5 separate regions of the Homo sapiens genome follow, and regions 1, 2, 4 and 5 are each linked to region 3. The links come from fine-mapping of genetic effects on gene expression. A gene starts in region 3. Each other region holds a variant in brackets. All regions are shown on one strand. Distances are between the middles of the regions.

Region 1 (6,031 bases), 35 kb after region 3:
AGGTAAACCGGGTTCCTGAATGGGAAGATCCAACACTTAGAAGGATGTCAATTTCGCCCCAGGTAATGTGTGAACTTAACAAATCCCAATGAAAATGCCAGTTTCGGGCCAGGCCCAGTGGCTTACACCTGTAATCCCAGCACTTTGGGAGGCCCAGGCAGGTGGATCACTTGAGGTTGGGAGTTTGAGACCAGCCTGGCCAACAGGGTGAAACCCCGTCTCTACTAAAACTACAAAGATTAGCTGGGTGTGGTGGCAGGGGCCTGTATTCCCAGCTACTCGGGGGGTTGAGGCATGAGAATTCCTCGAACCCAGGGGGCGGAGGTTGCAGTGAGCCAAGATTGCGCCACTGCACTCCGGCCTGGGTGACAGAGCAAGACCCCTTCTCAAAGAAAAGAAAAGAAAATCCCAGTTTCTTTTTCTTTCTGGAGGCAGACGGGTTGATTATAAAGTCCACATGGAAAAATAAACAAGAGAAAAGGAAAAACGAGGCAAAACTGTCTGGATGGTGACGCTGGTTAGTCAAGGGTCTTTGGAGTGCGGACGAAGGTTCTTTCCTGCACGTTAAAATGGGATACAAGTTTATAAAGAGGCTCTTGTTTTATGTGGTCTCTGTCGTTATCTAGTAGTTAAGCAGCAAAGGCACAATTTCAGGACCGGTCCTGAAAGTTCCTTCAACTAAGGAGACTCCAGGTGGCTCCAGGGCTGCCACCCCTATCCCTGCTCATCCTGGGAACCATGCAGGGCGCAGTGGCATGGGACGTTCGGGTCTGGATGGAGAAGGGGAGATGCCATGACCTCATCTCTGCTCACTACTAGCAAAATCATCTCCAAGCCTGCAGTGGAGGTCCCCCGGTCCTAACGTGACCCCGAATGGCAATGACACCTGCCCCCTGACCTGTTCTAAGAGCGGCCAGTGCCTCCCGATTAGAACTACAGACAACGCATCCCTTTCTCCCGTGTTCTGCACAGTCCTGTGTGGCCTGTGACACCACATCAGGAAACAGCAGGGCCCCCTGTACACTGCAGGTGTGTCCCAAAGCCCATGTCCTGGGGGTCCCCGAGGGCCCCTCACTGCCCAGGGCTCTGGGAGGATGCATGCGCAGCTGTCCGCAGTGTTCCCGAAGAGTGCAGGACGCCCTCGCAATGCAAAAGGCAAACCAAGCCCCTGGCTCCTGCCAGGCCCCTGATGCTGGGAAGAGCCCCTTCTCCCGTGCACAGCCTTGTGGGGGCCACAGGCCCAAGCGTCCTGCTCCGGAAGTGCTAGGGTTTAGGGTGGCACTTTTACCATTTTAGGCAACCCCGATGAAAAGTGAGCAAATCAGGGGGCCGCTGAGCCGTCACCGTGTGTCGGCAGAACAAAGGCTGAGGCGGCTGCGCCCACGCTGGGCCCTACGGGTGTCAGTCAGGATCTCTCCTTCTGTTCTGAGCTCCCATGACTCCAGCACACGGATGGGTTTTGAAAGGGAGGTGACTCATGTTCCCCAAGAAGAGGCACCTGCCCTTCCCAAGGTCGCGGCCGAGGCTGTCCTTGCTGTGGCACCCACTGAGCCCTTCCCTCTACTGCCTCCACCCCGACGGCGGCGCCTCCTCCTGCAGCCCTGAGGAGGCAGCACCCCAGGGTCAGACCCCGTCACACCCTCACCTCTTTCTCACACACCCACAACCACAATCACCCCCGGCGGGGCGGGGCGTCTCCATCCCAGGCCACAGCACCCCCGAGTCCTCCACGTCCAGGCTGGCTCCGCTCTGTGCCTGTCTGGCCAGCACTGCCCTGACTTCTGCGAACCGGGGTGACTCCCCCACATGGGGACAGGCCCCTCCTCCCCACCCCCTAAGGCTTCCCTCCAGGCCATGACAGGCCCAGCAGGTCCCTCTGGCTTCTGCGGCCCAGATCCTACTCCTCACACGAGTGCCTGCCCAACACCAGCACTGCACTGAGAATCCCTGGGGCCTCCGCATCCCAGGGCCTCTTGGCCAAGTCCAGCTTCGAAAGCCCCTGGCACCTTCAGGCCTGGTTCTCTTCTGTCCCTGACACACACCATTGCCCTCGTCCTTCCCACAGGCCTGTCCCCCATGAGCCCCTCCTACGTGACCCAACCCTTGCCTGCCCCCCTCTCCACGGAGTCCCACTCTGCTCCCTGCGGACCCTCCCCGGGTGCCACGCCTCCTGACGCTGGTGACCAGTTCCAGGGACGTCACTCTCTGCTGTTAGTAAAGCTGTCTCCCTCTCCAGAGCTTCGGGCAGGTTTCAAAGCATAACTGACACACACACACACACACACACACACACACACACGCACACTGCTGGGTGAAGTGCTTTTCATGTCTAGAAGTCAGTTTGACCAAGAAGAGCTTACTCAAGTGTCTCAGTCAGTGCACGGCCTGAGAAGCGCTTCCACAGATAAGCAAAGGTGTGTGTTTGTTCTTTTTAAAGAAACATTGAGTGTGAATGAATGTAAAATAATCAACCGTGGCAAACAGTAAGAGATTTTATTTTAGAACAGCGAGTGAATGGGCGTATTTTAAGGGTAGTTTGCTCACCTACCATCTGAGATCACCGTGCCTTAGTGAGAAAGTGTCCTCCGACTCCAGTTGAATGGGGCGGGGGACGCTGAAAGTAGTCATTTCAGCTAAATCTCTAGTTACCTGGTTTTCCTGAAATAGCTTAAACTGAAGCGATTTCTCGTTTTGGAGACTTTATGGCTCATTTCAATTTTGGCTGCTGTCTGGAAAAGGTGGGCTGTCTGTGTAGATATGGGGTATGGTTTGTCCATAAAGCAGGTGCTTATTGTGTCTTAAAACTGCGAATGAATTGTTTCTCTCCATCTGGACACACGAGGTGAGACTAATGTTGAACTGTAACATTCAGGAATTCCCTGTAGCCGCCCAGTGGACACGAACATGGCCGGCCAGAAGAGGCAAGACCAGATTTGGGGTGGAAAGAAAGCAATTCTGATTCTTCCCCACTCACAGACCCTTTATGGGAACCAAACTTGTGTGGAAACCTCTGCAGTTTCATCGGCCAGGTTCCCCCTGGATATGGCCCGGGAGCTGTGAGGCCGCCCAGAGCGAAGGAGTGTCCTGTTCTGCGTGTTATTCACCTGGCCCTCAGCAAGGGGC[C/T]CACGCAAAACCTCAGCTGGATGTTCCAGCAGAACCAACGCACAAAGAGGAAGTCCTCATAAAGCCTGCAGTCACCTCCAGTGACCAGGGAGCAGAGGCGGCACAGCCGAGCACACCCACCTGGGCCAGGCCAGACTTTTCCGCCACCCGGACGCGTGGCCGCCTTGCCGATGTTGGCTTTGCTTCACGTGGGTGTCTGGTGCTGTGTGGTCAGTAAGAATTTGTGGGCAGTTTTCACAGCCCCCCAGCTATTGGACTAAGGCAGCTGCCGGTCCTCCCCCCAACCCGGAGCTCACCCCGTTTCTACTAAAAATACAAAAAATTAGCCAGGTGTAGTGGCAGGCGCCTGTAGTCCCAGCTACTCAGGAGGCTGAGGCAGGAGAATGGCGTGAACCAGGGAGGTGGAAGTTGCAGTGAGCCGAGATCGTGCCACTGCACTCCAGCCTGGGTGACAGAGCAAGACTCCGTCTCAAAAAAAAAAAAGGCAAAAAAATCAGACATGCATAGGAATTATTCCCAACTGTGAATGCCGAATGCTCCCACAGGACAGTGATTGGTGCCGCTGCGGGGATCCCACAGACACCCCACAGACGACAATTCTTTAAGTTCAGGTTTACGCATCTGGGAACTTGTGACTTGACAGAAGAGTCCAAAGACACAAGTGCAGAAGGGGCTGAGCTTTGGGCCACTCAGGGGAAGTGAGGGTGGGATATCGGACCCCTTATACATCTACATCCCTACAAGTTCACATATGAAGAAGAACCAAAGCAAAACAAAACCCTTCTTGGAACCTCACCATTTAGGAAGTGTGGGGGGCCGGGCTGCCTTCCCCTGGGCGTATTCCCAAATCGCAAGGGATGGCAGTCAGGGCGGAAAGAGGCCTGGAAAAGCGCAATGGGAATGCACAAAGGGAGGCATTGACTCACTCCGGGAAGCAGGGGAGCAGAAGGAAAGGGGACAGAGCCGTCAGGCGCAGGCGGTGCGGGCGAGGGCGCCACGCTGAAGCACACGATGGGGCACTGGGGCCTGGTCACCACAAGCCTCGTCCACACGCACAGGAAGCTTGGAATTTACCCCAGAAGCAACTGGGGAGGAGGAATCAGAGGAGCTTTGAGGCAGGAAAAAGACTTCAGATCTGTGTTTCTCAAATATGGCTCAGGCCCAACATGGGGAAGCCAACACTGGGGAGCCCTGGGGTCAGGTGGGGAGGGTGGGGGACCCTGAAACACACTTAGGAGGCGTAAGCAGCCAGAAAACAGGAACCCTTGACCAGGACGGCACCGCACGTAGAGCAGGTCGGGGAACGGCCGGGTCACGCCGGCTCTTCCGACAGACAGAGGTGGCTGCCAAGCACAGGCAAGAGCAGGACCCTGCGGTCAGGAGAGCCAAGAGTGCAGCGGAGGAGAGCAAGTCGCCAGATGTACAGCTAAGAACCGAGCAGCAGAGGGTTGCACCCAGGGCCTAGGACCGCTGTGCTTAGGAAGCCTGGCCCGCAAAGCTGGCCCGGAGCTGGGGCTGGGAACGTGAACTGCAAACAGTTCCCTACACGGATATAACATGCTTCTGCATGACCGCCAGGCAGAGTGGTGGACACCTGTAATCCCAGCACTTTGGGAGGCTGAGGCAGGAGCCCAGGAGTTTGAGACCAGCCTGGGGCGACAGAGCAAGACCCTATCTTTATTTAAAAAAAAAAAAAAAAAAACTCTGGAGGCGGGGCTCAGTCACTCATGCCTGTAATCCCAACACTTTGGGAGGCTGCAGAGGGCAGATGGCTTGAGGTCAGGAGTTCGAGACCCGCCTGGCCAACACAGAGTACTAAAAATACAAAAATTAGCCAGGTGTGGTGGCAGGTGCTTGTAATCCCAGCTACTCAGGAGGCTGAGGCAGGAGAATTGCTTGAACCCAGGAGGTGGTGACTGCAGTGAGCCAAGATGTTGCCACTGCACTCCAGCCTGGGTGATAGAGCGAGACTCCATCTCAAAAACAAGAAAAGCACATTAAAAAAAAAAAGCTTTGGAATAAGAGCTGCTTGCTGTGCCCAAACTGTGTGTGCCTGAACAGGATGCCTTATGCTCGTGATGGTGAATTCAACGGTCACCTTGACTGGGCACGGGACGCCCTAGTAGCTGGCTGTACATGACTTCCGGGCATGCCTGTTGAGGGGGCTTCTGGAAGAGTAAGCAGACGGCCCTCCCTGAAGTAGACTGGCATCATCCAGGCCCCTGGGGACGTGAAGAGAACAAGAAGGAGGAGGAAGGCTGCGTTTCCCTGACTACCGAGCTATCCACCTTCTGGCCCCCTTGCTCCTAGCTCTGAGGCCTTCAGACCCGGACTGGAAGCGACCCCATCAGCTCCTGGCTCTCAGGCCTTCAAGCTGTGCCACTGGCTCTCCTGGGCCTCCAGCCTGCAGATGGCGGATTATAGGATTTCTCAGCCTCCATAATCCCATGAACCAGTATCTTATAATAAATCTCTTTACACACACACACACACGTGCACACAACTGGTTCTGTTTCTCAGGAGAACCCTGACTAACGCAATGCTGAACACCTGCTCTCCACTGGGAGTCTGGAATTTTGGTTCGTGTGCAGCCTGCATGACCAGCCCTTGACAAAAACCATGAGTTGTCACAATTCATTGCTGGAGGAACTGGGAGAGGGCTCTTGGGAGCTTGTGACTGGTTTCTTCTGGAATTTTCCCCATGTGCCTTTTTCCTTGGCCAAGTCTCCTTTATCTCCCCAGTGCAGTATGCCAGCTGTGGCCCCCAGTGCGGCCATGATTGATCCCAGCAGTCCTCCTAGCCAATCATCGAACCTGGGGATGGTCTTGAGGACTCAATGCAGAACATACTTAATAACTCTTCAAATAAACAAATCAGGTAGGTCAAAGTCAACTGGCCCCCAAAATT
Region 2 (6,031 bases), 75 kb after region 3:
ACCACCATGACCCTAACTACCACCGTGACCCTAACCACCGCCGTGACCCTAACCACCACCGTGACCCTAACTACCACCGTGACCCTAACCACCACCGTGACCCTAACCACCACAACCCTAACCACCACAACCCTAACCACCGCCACGACCCTAACCACCGCCACGACCCTAACCACCGCCACGACCCTAACCACCACAACCCTAACCACCACAACCCTAACCACCGCCACGACCCTAACCACCACGACCCTAACCACCACAACCCTAACCACCACAACCCTAACCACCACAACCCTAACCACCGCCACGACCCTAACCACCACAACCCTAACCACCACAACCCTAACCACCACCGTGACCCTAACCACCGCCACGACCCTAACCACCACAACCCTAACCACCACGACCCTAACCACCACCGTGACCCTAACCACCACCATGACCCTAACCACCACCGTGACCCTAACTACCACCGTGACCCTAACCACCACAACCCTAACCACCGCCACGACCCTAACCACCGCCACGACCCTAACCACCACGACCCTACCACCGTGACCCTAACCACCACCGTGACCCTAACCACCACCGTGACCCTAACCACCACAACCCTAACCACCGCCACGACCCTAACCACCGCCACGACCCTAACCACCACGACCCTACCACCGTGACCCTAACCACCACCGTGACCCTAACCACCACCGTGACCCTAACCACCACAACCCTAACCACCGCCACGACCCTAACCACCGCCACGACCCTAACCACCACCACCCTAACCACCACAACCCTAACCACCACGACCCTAACCACCACGACCCTAACCACCACGACCCTAACCACCACCGTGACCCTAACCACCACCATGACCCTAACCACCACGACCCTAACTACCACCGTGACCCTAACCACCACGACCCTAACCACCACCATGAACCTAACTACCACGACCCTAACCACCACCGTGACCCTAACCACCGCCGTGACCCTAACCACCACCGTGACCCTAACCACCGCCGTGACCCTAACCACCACCATGACGCTAACTACAGCCGTGACCCTAACTACCACCGTGACCCTAACCACCACCGTGACCCTAACCACCACGACCCTAACCACCACCATGAACCTAACTACCACGACCCTAACCACCACCGTGACCCTAACCACCGCCGTGACCCTAACCACCACCGTGACCCTAACCACCGCCGTGACCCTAACCACCGCCGTGACCCTAAGTACCGCCGTGACCCTAACTACCACCGTGACCCTAACCACCACCGTGACCCTAACCACCACCACGACCCTAACCACCACCGTGACCCTAACTACCACTGTGACCCTAACCACCACCATGACCCTAATTACTGCTGTGACCTTAACTACCACCATCACCCTAACTACAGCCATAGCCCTAACTACTGATATAACCCTAACTACTGCCATGACCTTAAGTACCACCATGATCCTAACTACCACCGTGACCCTAACTAACTACCGCCATGACTCTAACTAACTACCGCCATGACTCTAACTACCTGTCAAAGGCTTCGTCTCCAAACACCATCACACTGGAGGGTTAGGGCTTCAACATATGGATTCTGGGGAGACACACACTCAGTCCATAGCATTCCGGAAGTACACGCCTTGTTCGCTTATGCTGGCCCACAGCCAGGGAGGAACTTGGCCTCAGGAGGAATGGGCCTCCAGGCTCCCCCATGCCTTGTTCAGACAAGACTGCCCCCGCCACACTGGGAGGAGTTAAGGGTTCTGGGGCCATTGGGATGTAATGACAGTATTTTGCACGTGAGAAGGACACAGAATAGACATTCCCACCCCAGAAGAGAGAACTACGATGCCAGGCGCAGTGGCTCACGCCTGTAATCCCAACACTTTGGGAGGCTGAGGCAAACGGATCACCCAAGGTCAGGAGTTCGAGACCAGCCTGGCCAACATGGCAAAACCCCGTCTCTAATAAAAACATAAAAATTAGTGGGGCGTGGTAGTGTGACCCTGTAATCCCAGCTGCTTGGGAGGCTGGGGCAGGAATATTGCTTGAACCTGGGAGGCGGAGGTTGCAGTGAGCCGAGAGCGTGCCATTGCCATCCTGGGCAAAAAAAAAAAAAAAAAGAATCAAATGGAAATTCTAAAAGTAAAAAATGAAGTGACTGAAATTAATAATTTAAAGGGTAGATTTAAGAGTAGATTGGGTGAAATAAGAGATAACAGTAGAAAAAAATCCACATTGAAGCACAAAGCGGGAAAAAACCAACGCAGAAGAAACCCAGAAAAAAGAGCACATTAGACACACAGGTGTGAAGTGTGGGGGTCCCAGGGGAGAGAGAACAGGATGCTATTTGAAAAGCCAAGGGCTGGCCGGGCACGGTGGCTCACACCTGTAATCCCAGCACTTTGGGAGGCCAAGGTGGATGTATGATCAGGAGTTCCAGACCAGCCTGGTCAACATGGTGAAACCCTGTCTCTCCTATAAATGCAAAAAAAATTAGCCGGTCATGGTGGCAAGTGCCTGTAATCCCAGCTACTCGGGACGCTGAGGCAGGAGAATCACTTGAACCGGGGAGGTGGAGATTGCAGTGAGTCGAGATCGCGCCATTGCACTCCAGCCTGGGCAACAAGAGCGAGACTCAAAAAAAAAAAAAAAAAAAAAAAAAAAAACGAAAAGTCAAGGGCTGATATTTTCCAAAAGAGACAAAAGCTATCATGTCCCTGATTCAAGAAGCTCTACCAATCTCAATTAGGAGAAATTCTCGATTCCTCTGTCCTTCACAAGGCTGCTGTTGTGATGAAAACACTTTTAACAGGAGTCAGAGAAAAGAGATGTTGCCTTCCAGGGGTGGCAGTGAGGCTGGAAGGCGCCCTCACCACAGAAATGACAAACACTCCAAGCCAACACAAAAACCTGTTGGGGGAAACCCCCTACCTGCCTAGAACTCCACACAGAGTGGAGAACACCCTCCAGAAAGAATGCCAAAGACATTTCCCACACAAACAAAAAACAACTGGGCGTGGTGGCGCACACCTGCAATCCTAGCTCCTCAGGAGGCTGAGCCAGGAGAATCGCTTGAACCTGGGAGGTGGAGGCTGCAGTGAGCCAAAATCACACCACTGCACTCCAGCCTGGGCAACAAGAGCAAAAATCCATCTCAAAAAAAAAAAAAA[G/AG]AAAAGAAAAGAAATAAAAAGAATTAATTACAAGTCTGTGCTGAAAGGAATACTAAAGGGACTACTTCAGGCAGAAGGAAGCTGGTCTCCATGTAAGCGCCGTCCTGCAGGAAGACTAGAAGGGTAACCTGGGGGTAAATCTGAAGGACCACTGTCTAAGACAACACTTGGTTTGTGGGTCTGAAATACACGTAGAATTTACAGGCATGATAATAACAGCACAAAGACTGATAAAATAATAGCACAAACTAACAATAAGGAAAGAAGAATAATTAGGCCAGGCACAGTGGCTCATGCCTGTAAACCCAGCACTTTGGGAGGCCAAGGCAGACAGATCACTTGAGGCCAGGAATTCGATACCAGCCTGGTCAATATGGTGAAACCCTGCCTCTACTAAAAATACAAAAAATAGTTGGGCATGGTGGTGGGCACCTGTAATCCCAGCTACTCAGGAGGCTGAGGCAGCAGAATCACTTGAACCCAGGAGGTGGAGGTTGCAGTGAGCCAAAATCGCGCCCTTGCACTCTAGCCTGGGCAACAAGAGTGACACTCCATCTCAAAAAAAAAAAAAAAAAAGGAAAAAATAAGAATTAAACTGTTATAAGGTTTTGAAGAAAATGGTAAAAGTAGTTTATGCTACGTTCCAAGGATGTGACTCATAATTTCTAAGGTAGCCATTAAAATAACATTAAGAGAAGTATTACTTAACAAAGCTATAATAATAAAGGGAGGAAAGTGGAATAAAAACATCTGATTAAACCAAAAGAAGGCAAGAAAGAGGGACAAAACAAAGAACAGACCGGACAAATAAGGACCCATAGCAAGATGACAAAGCTACAATGTAACACATCAGAATGACATTAAATGTAAACGGACTAAATCTTTCATTTAAAACACAGCCATTTTCAGACTGGATTAAAAATAACTAACTTCTGCTTTTAAGAGTCATTTCCAAAATATACAGAAAAGAAAGTGAAAGGATGAAAAAATAGAGCATATAAACACTAAGTCCCCTTCCCTCCCTCCCCTCATCTCACACACACACACACACACACACACACACACACACACACACAGAGCTGGTGTGGTCACACTAACATCATACAGATCAGATGTTAATGACAATAATATTTTCATCTAAAGAGCAACATTTGGCCGGGCACAGTGGCTCACGCCTGTAATCCCAGCACTTTGGGAGGCCGAAGCAGGCGGATCAGGAGGTCAGGAGATCGAGACCATCCTGGCTAACACGGTGAAACCTCGTCTCTACTAAAAATATAAAAAATTAGCTAGGCGCGGTGGCAGGCACCTGTAGTCCCAGCTACTCAGGAGGCTGAGGCAGGAGAATGGCGTGAACCCAGGAGGCAGAGCTTGCAGTGAGTGGAGATGGTGCCACTGCACTCCAGCCTGGGGGACAGAGCGACACTCTGTCTCAAAAAAAAAAAAACAAAAACATTTCATGATGATAAAAGCATCAATCAAAAGGAAGATATGGCCAGGCATGGTGGCTCACACCTGTAATCCCAGCACTTTGGGAGGCCAAGGCGGGCGGATCACCTAAGGTCAGGGGTTCAAGACCAGCTTGGCCAACATGGTGAAACCCTGTCTCTACTAAAAATACAAAAATTAACCAGGCGTGGTGGCACACACCTGTAATCCCAACTACTCAGGAGGCTCAGGCAGGAGAATCGCTTGAACCAGGGAGGCGGAGGTTGCAGTGCGCCCAGATCGGGCCACTGAACTCCACTCCAGCCTGGGTGACAGAGTGAGACTCCAAAAAAAAAAAAAAAAGAAATAATAGGCTAATCTCTCTCATAAATACAGTTGCAAAAACAACAAACAAAATAATAGCAAACTGAATCAAGCAAAATATAAAAAGGCGAACTCATCACAACCAAACGAGGCACACTACAGGAATGCCATCGGTCTACCATTAAGAGCCAATCCATAGAATTCATCGTATGAACAGAATAAAGGAGAAAAGTTCTGTCACATCAATAGATGAAGGAAAAAAAGCATCTGAAAAAATTCAGCACCATTCATATTAACAACTTTCAACTAGGAATAAAATAGAACCTCTTTAATTTGTTGGTGGGGATTTACGAAGGAAAAACAGTATTTCCGCAAACAGCACCCTTAATGGTGGAATTCTTAAAGCTTTTCCCTGAAATCAGGCACGAGAGGATGTGGCTGTCACCACTTCTGTCCCATACTGTTTTGGAAGGATCAACAGTGCCAGGGTAACAAGGCAACATCTGAAGGAAAGGCAGAAACAAACAGCCGGTCACTGACAAAATGGCAGCGCACAGAGAGGTTCCGGAGCAACCACAGACAAACTACGGGGACCAGGAGAGGCCAAGACAAATGAGTTAATCACACTTCTTTACACATTGCTATAAACAAAAAGATAAAAAAAAAAAAACTGTAAAAGTAATACGGCTTAAAACAGCATAAGCACTGAAATACCAGGGAATCATTTGAACAAAAAATGTGGATGACCGCTACACACAAGACTACAAAATATTATTGAAAGAATTTAAGGCCGGGTGCAGTGGCTTGCATCTGTAATCCCAGCACCTTAGGAGGCTGAGGCAGAAGGACCACTTGAGCCCAGGAGTTCAAGACCAGCCTGGGCAACATAGGGAGACCCTGTCTCTACAAAAAAATGCCAAAATAGCTGGGCATGGTGGTGCACACCTGTAGTCCCAGCTACTTGGGAGGCTGAGGTGGGAGGATTGCTTGAGCCCAGGAGGTCAAGGCTGCAGTGAGCCATGATCATGCCACTGCACTCCAGCCTGGGCAAGAGTGAGGTCCTGTCTGCCCCCCGCAACTCCCCTGCCAAAAAAAC
Region 3 (6,031 bases):
TCAGCCAGCCCTGAGGTCCCCTGCAGGCCCGTGCCTCCTACCCTTGGGGCACCCGCAGCGAGAGCTTCCCAAGCAGCCTGCGCCAGCCGGGCAGCGCAGGTGTCCCGGGTCTGGGTCACTTGAGACCCCGCCCTGCTTCTGCTCGGCTCTGCCCCTCTTGGGCCCAGTGGCCAGGGCACCTGCATGGGGGAGCCGGGAGGGGCTGGAAGGATGCTGAAGACCCCAGCAAAGCTCTAGTGTTTGGCTTTCCAGGGGTGGGGGCTGGGTCCTCCCGCCCAGAAAGGCCCCTGTTCTGGGGCAGCAGCCACACACAGGTGTCCCTCACATGGTCCTCCAGGACAGGGCAGGGGCCTGAGTTTCCCAGGCTCTGCCCAAGGGACCCAGGCAGGGAAGGAGATGGGTCCCAGGGGGCTCGGAGCCCATCCAGAGGCCGGCCGGTCCCATGGCAGGAGGGCACTGGACCATGTGGGGGCCATAGAGGAGGAGGAGGCAGGAGCCACCCCCGGGTCCAACAGCAGAACCCTGGGGTTGGGAGCCAGAGTGGGGAAGGGAGAGGAAGGAGCAAGAACACCCCCCACCACCCCCAGCACGGCACAGAGAGCTGAGCAAACACTTGTCACCAAGGGCTTTTCTCCTCTGTCTTTTTTTGTTTTTCGAGACAGAGTCTTGCTGTGATGCCCAAGCTGTTGTGCAGTGGTGCGATCTTGGCTCACCACAACCTATGCCTCCTAGGCTCAGGTGGTTTTCGTGCCTCAGCCACCCAAGTAGTTGGGATTAAAGGTGTGCACCACCATGCCCGGCTAATTTTTGTATTTTTAGTAGAGATGGGGTTTCTGCATGTTGGCCAGGCTGGTCTCAAACTCCTGGCCTCAAGTGATCCTCCCGACTTGGCCTCCCAAAGTGCTGGGATTGCAGGCTTGAGCCACCACACCTGGCCTATTTTTTTTTTTTTTTGAGTTGGGGTCTGGAGTGCAGTGGCACGATCTTGCCTCACTGCAGCCCCCACCTACCTGGGCTCAGGTGATCCTCCCACCTTAGCCACCCAAGTAGGTGGGACCACAGGCACATGCCACCATGCCCAGCTAATTTTTTATTTATAGAGACAAGGTCTTGCCATGTTGCCCAGGCTGGTCTCAAACTCCTGGGCTCAAGCAATCTGCCTGCCTGGACCTCCCCAAGTCCTAGAATTGCAGGCATGGGCTGCTGGGCCTGGCCTTTTCTCCTGTCTTGGGAGGCTGGGACCAGTCTTCCTGGAAGTACCCAAGGCCCTCCTGCAGACCATGGTGACATTTCCAGGAAAGACCCAGAAGCTCGGAGCTGAAGCCAGGGCAGCCAGGACTGTCGGGGAGCCCTGGACACTGGCTGTCTGAGAGCGCTTGGTCAGCTGGCACCTGCCATGTGGTGGACGTGGGGCTGCAGAGACCCCACGGCTGGGCTTCTCTCGCCTGAGAGCAGGCCCAGCCACAGGCTACCTCCCACAGGGCCCCCTGAGACCACACGGCCTGCAGCAGCTCCCCCAGGCCCCCTCCCCCTGCCCGGGCAGCACTCAGCGCTGCATCTCCATCTGCTCACTCAAGTCGAAGGGCCTGGGGGTTGGTGCCTCCATCTTGTTCTGCTGGGGGCCTCCAGCATCTAGAGCAGGAAGGTGTGCGGAAGAAAACCACTCATGCAGGGAGAGGGGGACCTCCCAGTCCAGGCCCTGCTGCTGACCCTTTCCCTGAACACCAACCTATGGCCTCCAGGCTGGGGCCCCTTGAAGGACGGTGGGCCACTCGGGTGGCCTGGGTTCAGGGCCGGGCTCCACAGCTGAGTTCTGGAGGGAGGGCACAGACGACTGGGGGCTGGGAGGGGCCAGGTGAGGGGTAGGAACAGCCAGGGAGCCCTGCAGGAGGGGTGCCCAGCATAGCCCCAAAGCTGCTGGGGCTGGGCAGGGCAGAAACTGCCAAGGAGTCCCAGAGCCCTGAGTGGCGTCTGGCGAGGGCCCCTGACCCTGATCTCTGTAGACCCCACTCCTTCCGTGAGGGTGGCAGCCACTCCAGGGCCCAGCAGGGCCAAGGGAGAGGCAAGTGGCCTGGGCCCATGGGGCACTGGGCACAGCCAAGTGTGGCACCAGGGTGCCTGGGCGGCTGCTGCCACCACGTGGCCGACTTTGAGGTCGCAGAGCCCGGGGTCCAGGCAGGAAAGCCCCTCAGCTGCCCCCAGGGCCCTGGCCCAGGCCCCTGAGGCCCAAGTGAGCCACCTGGACTTTGTCACTTCGCCTCTGGTTTCTTGGTTAAGGAGCTTGAGTTCCCCGCCTTTTGTAAAGAAACGGTGGTGGCGACGGCGGATTTCAAGCTTTATTTACTCCTGGAATGGTCCTGGGAGGAGAGGCGGCTCCGCAGAGCCGGAAACGGGGGCGGGAGCTGTTGGGTGCAGCCGGGAGGAGGCAGTGCCGGGGCGGGCCGGGCAGCCATCGGGGTAACGGAGGGGGCTCCGGCCCGGGGGCTGCCCGGACGGGAAAGGGGACACGGGCGGGGCTCCCCCACCTGGGCCCCCCACCCTCACGCCAGGCCCCCCTGTGCGGTGCAGGACGAAGGAACCCTGGCCTCAGTTTCCCTACAGGCTGGGATCAGGGCCCCTGGGGTTCCGACTGTCTCGGAGGGGGGCGGCCTCGCTGCAGAGGTCTGGAGGCGGGGCCGGGGCGGGGGCGGGGCCTGGAGGGGCGGGGGCGGGGCTTGCGCTCACTTCCGCCCGGCGCGGGCTTGGATGGAGGCGGCGCGGAGGCCGCGGCTGGGGTTGAGCCGCCGGAGGCCGCGCCCGGCGGGCGGGTGAGGCCGGGAGCCGGGCGGGGGCGCGGCCGGTTTTCCCGCTCCCACGTGCTTCCCGGCGCCCCCGCGGGCCTCCCGCTCTATTCTCCCCCTGGGGAGGGCTCCCTGCCCCCGGGCCCGGCCCCCACGCCCGTCGCCCCACCCCGCGCCGCCATTCAGCGCCCGCCTTGAGCCCCCACCCCACGCCGAGCTTCCCCCGCGCCGCCCCAGGCCCTCCCGCGCCTCTCCCATCATCGCGTCTCCCCTGAGCACCCCCCATCTAACCCTCTACCTTCCCCAGGCCCTCCGCAATCTCCCCAACCATCGCCTCATCCCGCTGAGGACCCCATATTTCCACCCACCCACCCCGCTCCCCCACCCCCAGTACCCCTCATCTCCGCACTGTCTGCCCCAGCAGCCCTTCCCCCAACCCTGCCGGCCACCTCCCGCACCATCGAATTTCCCTCTAGTACCCCCCATCTCCCCGCTCTCTCTGCCCCAGGCCCTCCCGGGTCTCCCCACCATAGCGTTTCCGCTACTGAGTACCCCCTGTCTGCCCTCTCTGTCTGCCCCAGGCCTTCTGGCGGCCGCCCCTGGTTTCTCCTGGGGGGTGATGAGCGGGAGCGGCTCTGGGCCGAGCTACTGCGCACGGTGAGCCCGGAGCTGATCCTGGATCACGAGGTGCCTTCACTGCCCGCCTTCCCAGGACAGGTGTGCCCACTGGGCCCATCTTAGCGATGAAGGGGTTTCCAGGGCGGGAGCCATCGCTGGGCAAGGCCCAACAACTCTGTGTTGCAGGAGCCCAGGTGCGGCCCGGAGCCCACTGAAGTCTTCACTGTCGGACCCAAGACCTTTTCCTGGACACCCTTTCCGCCGGACCTGTGGGGCCCGGGCCGTTCCTACCGGCTGCTTCACGGGGCAGGAGGGCACCTGGAATCCCCCGCCAGGTCCCTGCCCCAGCGCCCGGCACCTGATCCCTGCAGGGCCCCCAGGGTGGAGCAGCAGCCGTCTGTGGAGGGTGCCGCGGCCCTGCGCAGCTGCCCCATGTGCCAGAAGGAGTTCGCCCCCAGGTGAGTAGGCCACCCCTGCGCCCGGCCCGGTTATCCATCCGTGTTTGGAAACCACAGCCGTTCAGAAGGTCAAGAGGTGGCCGAGCTCAGCGCTGGCTTTTAAAGCCCTGTTTCACACTGGAAAGGTGGCCCAGTGCTGTGGCCTGGCATGTCCAGGTGGCTCTCTGTCACGGGTCTGGGGTCCACCTGCTTGCCGTGCTCTGTGGGCAGGGCAGGCTGGGGGCCCACAGAACAGCACAGAAGGAAGGCTGGGAGCACTGGCCCCGGGTCCACCTGGCCATCCTGGAATCTGGTGGCACCAGCGTCCCCAGGCCCAGAGCACAGGAACACCTTCCCGAGAGTGCGTCATGGGTTTTAAAAATGAAGATCGTCTTTTTTGTCTGGAGATGCTTTTTCTTATTTTTGAAACCCAACGTATATTTTTATGTATTTTTTAAGTAAAGGGGAATGGAACCCAGTTTTGCTAACAAGATAACCCAAACTGCCCAGTGCCTGGCCTTGTGTCTGGCGACCTCTGGGCCCTTGGCCTCCGGAGCAGGTCCTGGGGCTGGGGTGGTGTGAATGATGCTGGTTCGTAACTTTTGGTTGAGTTAATGGGCGGCAGGTTTCAGAGCTTATGGAGACCAGGTCCTTCAGTCATGCCTGATGCCCCTGGTCTTCCAGAAGCAAAAACAGCTCGGGAATGCGAAGGCACCGGAGTCCAAAGTTGGCAGCCAACAACAACAACAACAAAAGAAAAGGCCGGGCACGGTGGCTCACGCCTGTAATCCCAGCCCTTTGAGAGGCTGAGGCAGGTGGGTTGCTGGAGCCCAGGAGTTTGAGACCAGCCTGGGCAACATGGCAAGATCCCATCTTTACATGCCTGGGCGTGGTGGCGCGTGCCTGTGGTCCTAGCTACTCTGGAGGCTGAAGTGGGAGGATTCCCTTGAGCCAGGAATTGGAGGCTGTAGTGAAGTATGATTGCACCACTGCACTCCAGCCTGGGTGACAGAGTAAGACCCTGAATCACGGACAGAGGGTACTGTTGGGAGCCCTGGGGAGAAATCCATGCTCTTGGCTGAAGCTCTGAGATCCTTGTTGCTGTCAGGGTGCTGCCCCCCGCCCCCCGGGGAGGGGCTTTTGTCTTTGCATCGCCTGCTTTTCCAGATAGTCTAAAAAAAGACTTCTGAAGACAAGGACGTTCACGAGGAAAAACTTGCCATTTTGAGCTTTTTAAGCAGTTGCTGAAAGCTTGGCAGACTGCCTCAATTTTTCCTAAGTAGGCGTCAATGAAGTCAGGTCCAGGCCTTGGTGTGTCTGGAATGCTTCAAGCACATTCGAACACTTGATCGTAAGGGAGAGCCGGTACTTTGGAACCGGAACTCACCCGAGGCTGTGGCCACCGCATGGGCAGGCTAGCTGGGGGACAAGCCCCATATCTTTGGGAACAAGGGTTTGCACAGCCACCCTGGGATGCCCTGGGACTCCTGACCGCACAGGACCCCAGCAGGGAGGCCGCCTGGATTGGAGGGTCTGGTCTAACAGCCGGACTTGGTCTTGAACCGTCGCCCTGTCCCGCACAGGCGCCTGCTGAGCCTGGAGCCCTGGCAGAGGCGGGTCTGGGGAGTGGAGCTGCCAGGAGGCCTCCCATTTCTCACAGCCTTGGTGTTCTCCGGGTCACCCAGAGGACCGTCAAATGCTGGATTTGACAAACTATGTAGAATGTTCTTTGTGTCTTTAAGATCTTCTTGTGGTCCTATTTGGACATTTTGTGCATTTTCAGACACCTGCGGGTCACGTGGGTGGATGGGAAGCTGGGCACCTGGTGAGGGGTGAGGATGTTGAGAGCCAGAGCTGCGTTTTGTCTCTGTTGATGTGGCGAGGCCCTGGGTTGGTCACTGGGATTTTTTTTTTTTTTTGAGACGGTGTCTCGCTCTGTCGCCCAGGCTGGAGTGCAGTGGCATGATCTCGGCTCACTGCAACATCTGCCTCCCGGGTTCAAGCGATTCTCCTGCCTCAGTCTCCTGAGTAGCTGGGATTACAGGCGTCACCACACCTGGCTAATTTTTGTATTTTTAGTAGAGACAGGGTTTCACCATGTTGGTCAGGCTGGTCTTGAACTGATCTCAGGTGATCCGCCCGTCTCGGCCTCCCAAAGTGCTGGGATTACAGGCGTGAGCCACCGCGCCCGGCCGG
Region 4 (6,031 bases), 110 kb before region 3:
GGAAAGCATTTTTTTTTTCCTCAGTTAAAAACAGCCCAGAAAACAAGACAACTCTCAGGTAAGAAAAGAGTTTCTGAAAAAGGACCCAGCATATACATGTATAATACAACGGTGAAAAAGGAAAAAGTATTTACAGGTGAACTGTTTTTACATTGGCTAGTTCTGTACGAAAAGCAGACATTACGTGTATGAGTTAGCTGCTCCAGAGATATGAATGTTATTGCTGTTGTTTTTCCCTTCGTTAAAAATCTTCTTTCAGTATAGAAATATAATGAGAATTAAACTGAATACACAATCACTTAGATGAAGGGCCTCACACACAGAGGAGTCAGCAGCCCACACAGCGGACACCTCTTCCCCCTTCTGCTGAAAAGAAACGGACTCGCACCTGTGCCAAGGGGAGCCAGGCGTGCACCCCTCGGGGCCTGGGACCCCTCAGTCCAGAGCAGCCCTGCAGCCACAGCTGCCCCCTCAGGCCCCTGACAGTGGAAGTGACCCTGGTGAGCCGAGGCAAGAGCTGTGGGAACTGCCTGGGAGGGTCCCGAGCTCGCCTGCCCACGTCCGGGTCCCACTGACCGCACGGGCCTGGCAGCTGCAGGAAAGGGTGGGCCCAGGTGACACTGGCTGGACCCTCCCAGAGCCGAAGTGGGGAAGGGCTGCCACTGCAGATACAGCGCTTTCCGTTTGGGGCAAGATGGGGCGGTGGAGGCGTGGACCCAACGGTGACCGTCGGGATGGAGCAAGGGCAAGGAGAGGCTCTGGCCCAGACACAGCTTGGAAAAGCTCATCTCCCTCTGGGGTCTAAAAACTCAAAGCAAACGGAGCAAGCCTGGCGGCCCTGGGGATGGGGCAGGGCCTCTACCTCACTGTGATCTTCGACCTGGCGACACAGGACAGCCACACAGAAGCACGCCAACACACTTAAAGCTTTGCTCCAACTAAATCATTTAGTTTCCCTTGAAGAAATAACTGAAAAAAAAAACAACTCTGGTAAAACAAGGCTAAAAACAGCATTCTGCATGTTGCATAACAAAACCGACCCTTTACAAGACACGGTAATAATGCCCGCTGACGGATCTACCTACGGCAGAGGTGTGGAATCCATGCACACAGAACAACCGCAAAGAAAACAAAAGCAAAGAAAATTCCAAACAAACGCTGCATATACATGATGTCCCTTTTGCATTGCACTTTAGAAGGGGTGGGGGGCTTCAGCAGCAACCAAGACCCCCCTCAGTAAACCAAGGGCAAAACCCCGCAGGCAATTCCGCCACCCAGATGCGAGGGCTCAGCAGTCTCTGGTCTTTGCTCGTCACTGCCCCGAGGTCGTCTGTACCTGGGCAAGTAACCTCCACCTTCTGTGAGCGCGTGCAGCTGCCGCGGGTGTTAGAACGGATTCAAGCAAAGAACTCCTGTAAGATCTTCTTATGTAAATAAATACCGTAACTGTAGGATAGGTAGCCGCCTCTTGTCTACTGGGAAATCATTTTTCAAGCTTGGGCATAAGAAACCTTATACAATTTGCATAAACAGGTGAGAGTAAACGAGATTATTTGGAATAAATGCAAGGAACTTATTCTGAGAGTGGCAGATTCAGTCGCTACTGAAGACAGATATCTTGGGGGTAAAAAGACACGAGTCAGGATTTGCTGTACAAGATGCTGGAAGGCACAGAACGACCCCCGAAGTTCAGTTTTTGCATTTTCGTTTTCTTGTGATTCCCTTGTTCAACCAAGCACCAGAGGGGGTTTCTAAGCACTCGAGCACTTCGGATTTGACTGCTCTATAAATCGGTAAAAACCTCAGTTCACTGGGGAATAGAAAGAGAAGGGAAGGTTGTGGACAAAGTGCAGTTCTAAATATACGTTTAAATGAACGAACAAAAAAAAAGAAAGAAAAATTGAAATAATGCTCTTTTGTTCCAATGCTGCAGCCTCAGTCCCAAAATGAAGGGAGCGACGTTTGCCGAACTGAAAAGGGTCGCCCGGTCAGGCGGCACGTGTGCCCGGAGGGGCTGAGGGCGTGACCGCCAGCCACGGTCACCACCCGACGCAGGTCAGTGCCTCGTGGTGGAGGAGCGTGGGCAGAATCACGGGGTGCAGAGGAGCCGAAGACCGTCCCCTCAGCTCCGGGGCAGCTCCTGTGCGGCTCTGCACTTCCTGGTACCCGTGGGGACAGCGCTGGCATCGACGGCGGCGTGGCGGGCGGGGTAGGCGGCAGTAAGGCGGGCAGTGTTCGAGCTCATCTCGCACGCGGCACTGTCCCTGCTCTCCCTGGCAGCAGCAGGAAGACCTGGGTCCTTGTCGCTGAAAAAATAGACTCTGAAGAAAAACCCCTGCTGTCCTCACGCAGCCGCGGGCAGATGAGCTGTGATGGCTTCCCCGGGTGGGGAGGGTGGGGCGGCCGCCACCCCCACTCCGTTGCGGGTCTTCAGATGGCGTCATGTGTTGGGGCTTTTAGAAGTTAGTCATTTAAAAATGTGTTGATTTTCTGAATTTCAAGTCTCCTTACTGGTTTTAAATAGCTTATAACAAAAGTGTAAATGTTAGAATGTTCCAGCAAGCAGAGGACCAGCAGGCCGCCGAGCTGGCCCCGTCTCCAGCTGTAGTTGGGGGACGCGGCTTACTCACTTGAACTTGGCCAGTAGAAAATTTTGCAGTGGGTTCCAAAACTACATGGTTACAAACACTCGCTTGGTAATAGGCACGGTAAGACGTTGTGCTGTGTGGGCTGCAGGGGCGGAGCCGGGCGGAGCTGCACCGCCCAGCCGCGCCCCCCTGCACCCGCGTTGTCGGCGGCGCTGCGGCGGCAGGCACGGAATCTACGGCTCCAGCTCCGCAGCGCCCTCGCTGCCCGCAGCCTCGGGGCGGGCCCGCGGCCACAGCTGTTCCTGCAGCTCCTTCACCACCTTCTCCAGGTGCTCCCGGGCCTCGCGCTCCCGCAGCAGGTCGGCCCGCAGCTGCTCCCGGTCCGCCTCCGCGTGCTGCAGCTTCACCTGCAGGTCTTCGATCTGAAAGGGAGCCGAGTGGTCAGCGGCGCCTGCTCGCTGCCCTGCCCCGGCCCGACGCTGCTTCCCCCACCCGAGGCTCCTGCGCCGCTCCCTGTCCCTCCCCAGTGCCGCGTGCCGGCCCCTCCTCCACCTGCTAGGACACAGGCTCACGAGACGCAGGGCCCAGCAACCACCCACCCTGTGCCCGTCGGGGGGGCACGCACGGAACGTGGTCCCGGGCCTGGCTTCTGCTCCAAGGCCTTTCCGGCTGGGCAGGACTGGCCACCGGGGCCCACGGCGGCTCCACGCCCACCGTGCTGCGTGCCTCAGTCTCCCCACCCGCATACCTGGGCCGAGTACTTGGCGCGCAG[G/A]CGGCCCGCCTCGCAGCCCTTGTCGCACACCCGGGCCTGCCGCGCCTGCTCCAGCTCCCGCTTCAGGCGCAGCCGTGACTCGTTGGCCTCTTTCATCTTCTTCTCGTTCTCGGCGCGGAGACGCTCGATCTCCTTCCGCAGGTTACGCTTGGCCTCCGTGGCCTCCCGCAGCTTCTCCTTCTTGGCCACGCGTAGGAACTCCAGCTCCTGGGGGCCGGAGGCGGCTCGGGGTCACTGCCCAGCCGGTCCCAGCACACCCCTCACCATGACCAGCAGTCCTCAGCCCACCCCGTGGGGTCATCTATCTGACAATGTGCCCTGGAGCCCCGCCCCCAGCGCGCCATCAGCCCAACCCGTGTGGTGCCCCGACCCCACAAAGGCTTTTCAGACCCCCATCCGGAGTTTCCGCCAGGCCTGTGGCAGCTGTGCTAAACCTGGGGGCCTGAGTCAGTCACTTGAGGCTGCGGCGGGGCCTCCCCCGGTATCTAGGGCCACGTTCCCCTTGGGGGCAGCAAGCCAAGTAGGCCCTGGCTCCCATCAATGTGAGGAGGGCAGCCTCAGACATCGCACCATCTGAGGGCCCCGGGTCTCCCCACGCAGCCAGATGGACACGTCCATCCGCCCGGCGCCTCCGCAAGCCCCCCCACTCTCCCCATTAAAATATCCGTGTGACTCACACCCCACGCTGCAAACACACCACATGAATATGTATGTGGGAAATCACACCTCCAACCAGAATCAAGGACAACAGTGGCGGGGGACGTGCTGGGGCGAGGGACTGGCACGCGCAGGAGGGCACGTCGGCAACCCTGCAGCTCTGAGGGCCGACGGGGTTGTGTTGTGCTAAAGCCCACGCCGCGGAAGCTGCCAGACGCCGCCGAGGTGTGAATTTAGCGAGGCCGGGGCCCGGTGAACAACGGGCCGCCTGCACACCTCTCTCCCCAGGCAGCTCTGCCTGTGAACCGCACTTCCCTCAGTCATGTCAGAAAGAAACCTAAACAACGTAAAAGGAGGCGCGAGACCGGAGCTGCAGCGTGAGAACCGTGAGGCAGAGCCCAGAGAAGCAGCGTGTGCAGGTGGGTGTGTGTGTGTCTGTGCGGGCCGAGCCCTCTCCTTCCTACTCGGGAGGCCTGGCGGGAGCCGCCTTCTGGAACACCAGGCATTAGTAAGCACGCCCCTCACGCCTGTGTTTTGCAGACGCCAGGTCTTGCTGGCGGAGCGCGTGAACACCCACTCCTGGAGCACACAGAGCAAGGAACTGTCTCCATGCAGCTGCTCCCAACTCTTTCTGCCACTAAAAATAGCCCGGCCTCCCTTATACCAGAGAAACATGGCTACTTCCTCAGTGGGGCCACCACGCAGGGTGTGTGATCCTGATGGGGAAAGCTGTGGTCAAGCCAAATGTAGTGGCCTCCTGGGATGTCCATCAGCCTGGGGACACTGAGGGGCTCACCATACCCAGGGCTGCAGCTTTTGGGAGACGGACCCCCAAGGTCCCAGGCAGGCCCACTGAGGTGGAGGCAGAGAGGAGCGCATGGGGCAGCCAGGAAGGGAGGAGGCACCACCTGTGCCCGTTCACCTGGTGCAGGCTGTGCTCACTGCCCGTGCCCTGGACCTCCCAGCACCACTCGCCCCGCTCACCTGGTGGAGGCTGCGCTTGGCCTGCAGGGCTGCGCTGAGCTTCTCCTCCTGCTTCACGCGCATCTTGACCACCTCATGCAGGAACTTCTCTTTGGCTTCCTTGGTGTCCAGGCCGCCCTCCAGTGCCTGCCGCAGGTGCTCCAGCTCCGCCTCCAGCCCACTGGGGGCGTCGGCAGGGGCCGCAGCATCAGGGACGGCCGAGGGCAGGGCACGCGCACCCGGGGAGCCCAGGTCCTTGGCGGAGCTGGATGAGGTAAAGGACGGGGAAGAGAGCGAGGACAAGGAGGAGGTGACTGAGGAGGAAGCAGAGACAGAAACAAAGTCATGGAAGTGCCCGGCAGCTCCACACCAGGGAGACGCGCCGCTCCCGGAGGAACCTGCGAAACATGGGGCCACCAACGCACCCCCGGCGACCAGCCCCCCTCAGCCAGTGCCACCCCCACAGCCCACAGGGAGGAGGCACAGAAAGCGACTCACACGTACATTCCTCCCTGCTTTCAACTTCCACCTCCGCCTCCGAGTCCTTGTCCTCCTCTGGGGCAGCCACGGGCGCCAGCGTCTCTGGGGCTCCTGGGGTGTCCACAGTCAGCTTCCGCTTCCGAGGCTGGGTGCAAGTGGCGAGAGGCTCGGGGGCCCGGGAGACGGCGGCGGCACACGGAGGGCTGCTCACAACCTTCTGCTGGGCCGGCGGTGCGAGGGCCACGTTGGGCGCCACGGCTGTCTCAAAGCTCTTGTAGGAGTAGAAGCTGGAGGGGCAGGCGGGTGTCGGGAAGGTGCCTCTGTCCCCAAGCACCACCCAGACACATCCTGGCGCACACCCCCTCTGAAGGTGTTAAACAGGAAAGACTTTCCCAGCTCCGAATCTTCAAGTCAAGCTTACAGTTCCCTAAGAACCCGTAAGCGTTTTCTGCTTGCTGGGTCTCTTGCGAAGGCCAGACACAGGCCAACACATCAAGAAGCTGCGCCCAGCAGACAGGGCTCCACCCACGACTCCACCCAGAACACAGGGAACGCTCTAGGTGTGCTCTCC
Region 5 (6,031 bases), 140 kb after region 3:
GCTGAGGCAGGACAATCGCTTATATCTGGGAGGTGGAGGTTGCAGTGAACAGAGATAGTGCCACTGCACTCCAGCCTGGGGACAGAGCCAGACTCTGTCTCAAAAAAATAAAACAAGTTTTGGAGAGGGGGGGGTCTCACTATGTTGCCCAGGTTGGTCTTGAACTCCTAGGCTGAAGCGATCCTCCCACCTTGACCTCCCAAAGTGCTGGGATTACAGTTGTGAGCCACCGCACCCGGCCTAGTCTTTAAATTTAGAGCCTCATTGATATAAAGGGCGAAGAAAATTAAGTGTTGTAACCAGGTAGCCCGGTGTCCAGGAGAATGATGGATCTGTCAGAAATCCATGGGTGGTTTCGAGCTTTGGTCCCATCTTGGACTCAATCGTCCATGGCCAGACGCCTGGCAAGGAGCCCAAGCTACGCCAGAAGTGGACACAGAGACAAAGACGTGACCGGCTGGCCACAGCGCTGGAACCACATTCCCAGGCCCCAGACGCCCTGCAGACCCCCAGCAGTACCGGGGAGGAGCCCACGCCCACCTAAAGACAAAGTGGAAATGATCACAATCACATCTCCCATGCGTCAGCTCATCATGGGGCTTTGAACTTAAAGCTGAGGACAGCTGTGAGCCTGGAGCCGGGCCTAGGGAGCACCGGGCAGGTGAGGTGGCTGGTGGGGCTGTCCCCTCTGTCCACATGCGCCGCGGGCCCTACGCTGGCCACTGGAGCCTCTGAGTGGTTTACGGGTTCTTTGTTAAGAGCAGTTTTCATTTGGGTTAATAAAATGTCAAAGAAAAGGCCGGGCGCGGTGGCTCACATCTGTAATCCCAGCACTTTGGGAGGCTGAGGCAGGCAGATCACGAGGTCAGGAGACTGAGACCATCCTGGCTAACACGGTGAAACCCCGTCTCTACAAAAAATACAAAAAATTAGCCGGGCGTGGTGGCGGGCGCCTGTAGTCCCAGCTACTCGGGAGGCTGAGGCAGGAGAATGGCATGAACCCAGGAGGCGGAGCTTGCAGTGAGCTGAGATTGTGCCACTGCACTCCAGCCTGGGCAACAGAGCAAGACTCCGTCTCAAAAAAAAAAAAAAAAAGTCAAAGAAAAAAACCCAAATGGCATTATATTAGACATCCCTAAATTCTCTGGCATCATAGGATTTTAAACCATTTTAAATCCCCCAGCTAGTCGGCAGACACCCACAGCCAGGAACAGCCCCCCAGAGCTGCCCACCACAGACCCCGCCACTAACCATGAATGATGAGGCCTTCATCCCTGCACTGACGGGCCAGGCGGAAAGCCTCTTCCAGCTCCATCTGGGAGGACACCGTGCAAGGGTCACCTGGGTGGGGCAGGAGACGGTGCTGACGTCGCCGAAGGCCCGAGGCAAAGGGGGCTGTGACGAGCCCGCTCAGCACACCAGACAAGGGTCTGGTGGGGGGCAAAGTCCCGATGCTCAGACTGGCCACCTCCTGGCAGGGTCGGGAGGTCCAAGGACGGCCGTCCACACTAGGGAGTCACCTGGCCCCCGGTGCAGCGTCAGAGCCACCCCGGAAGGGAAGTCAGTACACCTGCAGCCCTGGGCACCACTTGGAGGGCTAAGCAGTGAGCGGGGCTGAGGACACTCTCCGGAGGTCAGTCCTGGGCGGAGGGAGAGCTCCTTGCCCTCTATGGCTGGAAAGGGACATGGAGGTGTACAGAACCCAGGCCCTGCAGGGCTGTACCCAACCCAACGGGGGCGCTATCAGGCTCCACCCGCACGGCCGTGTCCTTGGCCAAGAGCTGCCCGCCAGTCCCTGGGAGAAAGGGGTCTCTCTGGACGTCTCCCAATCCCCTTGTTTTTCAGGATGTGTCTAAGAGACAGGAGGTGGACACGGCAGGCCCTGGCTGCTTGTGCCCTCCCCGTGGTCCCTAGAATATGAAGAGCCCATCCTTTCAGAAGCACCTACCGAAAAAGGCCAGGACATGAGAAAGGAGGTCAGAGGAAGAGGTGAGGACCTGCCCAGGGTGGGGCAGGGAGACCCCCTGCAGGCAGTTCAAGACCAGAGCCCTTCCTAGGGGCATCTGGGCCCAGGTCCTTGATAAGCATCTGTGGCCAACCTCTTTCCCACCATCCCCACTGGGGAAAAGTTGGCGCCAACAAGTTTAATTCCACAGCTTTAAGTCTCCCCACAGAATTGGCTGAGCACACTCCGCACACAGAGGCTGCCCTGGCGAAGTCCCCTGAGGCTGAGGATTCTGGCCAACATGGGACAAGGGCTACCTTCGCTGTCCACCCACTTGAGGGTGAGCGGGTGCTGCTGGTGCAGACGACACATGTCTCTCACTTCCTCACAGAGCTCCTCGAAGGTCGTGGCGGCGTCCACGCTGGTGATGAAGATGTCCCTGGGGCAGAGGGGACATGGGCATCTGTTACCGTGGGGCATATTTGAATCAAATTAAAAAATGATTACCAACTAACCAAATCATTGATTAGATAAATGAAACTTTCCCCAAAGACAATATGACAGCCCCACCCCCTCCCCCCTCCCACACACAAAATAGAACCATTAACCATAACCATAGTTTAAAAAATGGCCACCATTGCCAAGCACAGTGCCTGACACCTGTCATCCCAGCACTTTGGGAGGCCGAGGCGGGTGGATCACGAGGTCAGGAGATCGAGACCATCCTGGCTAACACGGTGAAACCCCGTCTCTACTAAAAATACAAAAAATTAGCCAGGCGCGGTGGCGGGCGCCTGTAGTCCCAGCTACTCGGGAGGCTGAGGCAAGAGAATGGCGTGAACCCGGGAGGCGGAGCTTGCAGCGAGCCGAGATCGCGCCACTGCAGTCCAGCCTGGGCGACAGAGAGAGACTCCGTATTAAAAAAAAAAAAAAAAAAATGACCACCATCAACTTCCTTGCACAGAGAAAAAAGCGCGACCTACCTGGCTGGAAAGAATGAGGACAAAATGGGAGAAAAGAAAGTGCCCTCTTGTGGGAGGTCCGGCAACGTTACCTGGTCGGGCACTCGTTCAAGTTCACCCAAATGTGGGTGACCCCGGGATGGGCGCGAGCCGGGTCGGTGCAGGCCGCCGGCTTCACTAAGGTAAAGGAAACCAGTCAGACCTGCCCCCAGACCTCGACGGTGCCAGCGGTGAAGTGGCGGGGATTAAATAATTCCA[T/C]AATGAAAGGCCACTCTTTAGACCCCGGAGTGGGCACTGGGTCCGTTGCTGCAGCCACGGCAGAAGCCCCGGCAGATTTTTTTTTTTTTAAAACCGAGTCACACAGAGTCAGTGTGTTTTATCTTTTCAGCCCCAGACAGGACCTGAACTCCAGGGGCTGGGGAAGCTCACGGACTCCCAGGCACCCTTTGAAGGCTGGCACTTCCCTGCTGATAGGGACCCGAGGTCCCCCCTCACCTCCTGCACTGAGCAAGAGCTGGTCTCACCCTGCGTGGAGGGGAGGGACCACCACAGGGCCCAGCTGGTGTTTCCTGAAACTCAGAGCGGGAATCACACCCTTGTGAACACACTGAATTTTCAGAAAAATCTACGGCTTTCTGACACCCACAAGAGCGCGGGGCAAGAGCACAGGGCCTATAAAAAGAAGCCTGAAGGGGTGTGAGATGTCCCAACCAGAGATACAGGCTCTGCTCTTCGCTGACACTGCTGGCTCCCCATCAAGGTTATCTGAATTCATCAGACAAGTTTCAAGAAACAAAGTTCTCATCCCAGACAAGAACTCCAGTGCAAACAGAACACAGGATCGGTCCACAGCCGCGGCCCTGACACAGCAGCCCAGGGCCCACCTGCCCCACAGGCCTCACCCAGTCACCCTGGGCCACCTGGGCCTGGGGGACAGACGCCCCAGCTACCCACCCCTTCCTGCTGGAACTGGCCACCCAGCACCTGCCCCCAGTGCCCAAGCACCCCACAGGAACCAACCTGGCTGGTCTTCGCCACAGCCCACAGCATCATGGCAGATTAGGAAAGTAAGGAATGGAGGGGGGTCACACACCCATCACCCTGGGGTCGCCCCAAGCTGACATCCACGCCTGCTGCCTGACCTGGAGTCCAAAAGTCTGACCACCAGGAACTCCAGAGTGGGAGTCGGCCATCACTTCACCTTTGACCTCTTCCTGCCCCACGCCCCTACCCCTACAGTCCTGCCTCCAGTGGAAGCCAGTTTCCGGCCAATCTAGAGGCCAGGTGGGTGGCTCCAGTAAAACCCCAGGGCTTGGGAAGTGTCAGGCCACCACCTCCAACCCTATCCCAATCCTGAATCAAACAGCTGCCCTGTGCCCTTCAGCAGGGGCGTCCAGGACTCAGCACCCAGCAGCCAGCTGGGCCGCCCGGGAGAGACTCCTGCGTCTCTGTTGGCCTCAGCACCAAGCCCTGGGCTTTGCACACAGAAGCTCCCTGAACACAAACGTTGTCTGAGCTGGGCCAGGCGCGGTGACTCACGCCTTTCATCCCAGCGCTTTGGGAGGCCAAGGCGGGCGGATCACGAGGTCAGAAGTTCGAGACCAGCCTGGCCAACAAAGTGAAACCTCATCTCTACTAAAACTACAAAAGTTAACCGGGCGTGGTGGCGGGCGTCTGTAGTCCTAGATACTAGGGAGGCTGAAGCAGGAGAATTGCTTGAACCTCGGAGGTGAAGGATACAGTGGGCCGAGACCACACCACTGCAGCCTGGGCAACACAGCGAGACTCAAAAAAAAAAAAAAGTCTGAGCTGAAAGAGGGAAGAGCCAGCACCAGTGTTTGTGGCCCTAGAAGAGCGGGCATCTGAGACTCAGCGTGGGAGTCTGGCCCAGGCCACCTGGGACTCCCTGAAAACACAGGTGCCTGGGGACCCCTCAGGCCCACAGGGGGCGGGGTGGGGTGGCGAGGATTGGATCTCAAGTGTGCTCAGAGGGCCCTGGGAGGACAGGCAAGGATGACGGGGTGGCCATGCCCCATGGGGGTGACTGAAGTGCTCTTCCTTTTTCTAAAGACTAGTCTTCCACGTGTCCACGCTCAGCTACCCCCACGGACAGCAGCGTCTCACCCCAGGGACAGAGTTTCTAGGGCTTTCAATAACCCAGTACTCATCCTGGCAGCCGCTTTCTGGAACTGTGTCATTGCCCTAAGGCCTGAGTGTCCCACCCCACAGCCAGTCCCCTCAGAGAGGCACCGGGTGCCCAGAGGGACGAGGAGCCAGAACGGGGAGAAGGGTACTTCACACTCTGCAGCAGAGAGGAGGAGGACCTGGGAGGGGAGAGAGGAGAGAAGGAATGGTAGGAGCAGGGAAGAGCCAGAGGGGAGACGTGCCCTAGAAGGGGGAGGAAGGTGAAGGAAGAGGTGTGGCAGGGAAGGGAGAGAGGGGAGAGCGGGAAGAGGAGGGAAAACAACAGGGAAGGAGGGAGGAAGAGGAAGGGGTGGGGAGAGAGGGGAGAGAGTCCGGGAAGGGAGGGAAGAGGAAGGGGTGGGAGCCTGGTCTCTCCAGCCTGGGAAACCAGAGTCACCGGGTGGAATTACACCCGCCCCACCACCAAAGTGCTCCCAGGGGCCAAAGCAAGGCAGAGGGAGGACGGGGCGGCCCAGAACTCCAGTGGCATTGCCTCCGAGCCTTGGTCCCAGGAATTGGACGCCGGAATGCAGGAGGGTCTGGGCCCCTGCAGCCCCTCGGGTGTGGACCTCCCTCTCGCAGGACTCCCCTGAGCTCCGCACCATCACCTGTTGCCCAGTGTGGTGGCTCCAGAATGGCAAGGAGACAGGAAGCCCAGGTCCCTGGACAAGTCCAATAGCCAGAACGTCAACCATACCAAGTTTTAACCTGCTGACCTCCAGGCCAAAAGACATGGCTGCCCTACCTCTTCAGGTAGGGCTGGACGGTCAGTCCCCCAGAAATCCCTTTCTTCTGGTTCTGGCACCAAACCCGGGCCACTGCACCCCGAAGGTTCCAGGTGCTTGCCACAGGGGAGCTGCAGAGGCCCCAACCTTCCCAAAGAAGAGACAATTGAGCCTCCTCAACAAACCCGGGGCCAAGCAGCCCCAGATGGCTGACC

Alleles and levels. Alleles are on the strand shown, and positions count from the first base shown. SD is a standard deviation of normalised expression in the study named. Not every link is listed here.
With allele G in place of AG in region 2, the expression in monocytes after LPS of the gene that starts at base 2,723 in region 3 is lower (moderate effect, 0.65 SD a copy in Kim-Hellmuth 2017).
For the expression in CD8 T cells of the gene that starts at base 2,723 in region 3, G is the high allele of the variant in region 4 and A is the other (large effect, 1.6 SD a copy in Kasela 2017).

The links. PIP is the estimated chance that this variant, and not a neighbour inherited with it, causes the effect. A credible set is the group of variants that fine-mapping cannot tell apart.
Region 1: its variant is the best candidate, but not a certain one, in a credible set for the expression of FAAP20 in whole blood (TOPMed, PIP 0.69).
Region 2: its variant is the best candidate, but not a certain one, in a credible set for the expression of FAAP20 in monocytes after LPS (Kim-Hellmuth 2017, PIP 0.67).
Region 4: its variant is the best candidate, but not a certain one, in a credible set for the expression of FAAP20 in CD8 T cells (Kasela 2017, PIP 0.55).
Region 5: its variant is the best candidate, but not a certain one, in a credible set for the expression of FAAP20 in whole blood (INTERVAL, PIP 0.68).

The regions. Positions count from the first base shown.
Region 1 is chr1:2,156,507-2,162,537 of GRCh38, reverse strand. All of the region lies in intron 10 of PRKCZ (protein kinase C zeta), which reads right to left. Among named protein-coding and RNA genes, the nearest start is that of PRKCZ-AS1, 24 kb to the left of the region's middle. The variant C/T (reference allele first, on the strand shown) is at 3,124.
Region 2 is chr1:2,116,942-2,122,972 of GRCh38, reverse strand. The region is part of intron 4 of PRKCZ (protein kinase C zeta); the gene reads right to left. Among named protein-coding and RNA genes, the nearest start is that of PRKCZ-AS1, 64 kb to the left of the region's middle. The variant G/AG (reference allele first, on the strand shown) is at 3,184.
Region 3 is chr1:2,191,464-2,197,494 of GRCh38, reverse strand. FAAP20 (FA core complex associated protein 20) reads left to right here and starts at 2,723. Exons shown (of 4, transcript NM_182533.4): 1 at 2,723-2,807; 2 at 3,362-3,497; 3 at 3,585-3,856. The coding sequence starts at 2,746. LOC112268219 (a long non-coding RNA gene) reads right to left here. Exons shown (of 1, transcript NR_168005.1): 1 at 5,037-6,031. RefSeq lists an enhancer at 1,089-1,755 and silencers at 2,389-2,868, 2,879-2,968.
Region 4 is chr1:2,303,556-2,309,586 of GRCh38, reverse strand. SKI (SKI proto-oncogene) reads right to left here. Exons shown (of 7, transcript NM_003036.4): 4 at 5,485-5,747; 5 at 5,002-5,294; 6 at 3,337-3,567; 7 at 1-3,010. The coding sequence ends at 2,822. Among named protein-coding and RNA genes, the nearest start is that of SKI, 78 kb to the right of the region's middle. RefSeq lists an enhancer at 2,300-2,933. The variant G/A (reference allele first, on the strand shown) is at 3,361.
Region 5 is chr1:2,051,794-2,057,824 of GRCh38, reverse strand. It overlaps PRKCZ (protein kinase C zeta), which reads right to left. Exons shown (of 18, transcript NM_002744.6): 2 at 2,263-2,384; 3 at 1,252-1,341. Among named protein-coding and RNA genes, the nearest start is that of PRKCZ, 4.4 kb to the right of the region's middle. The variant T/C (reference allele first, on the strand shown) is at 3,166.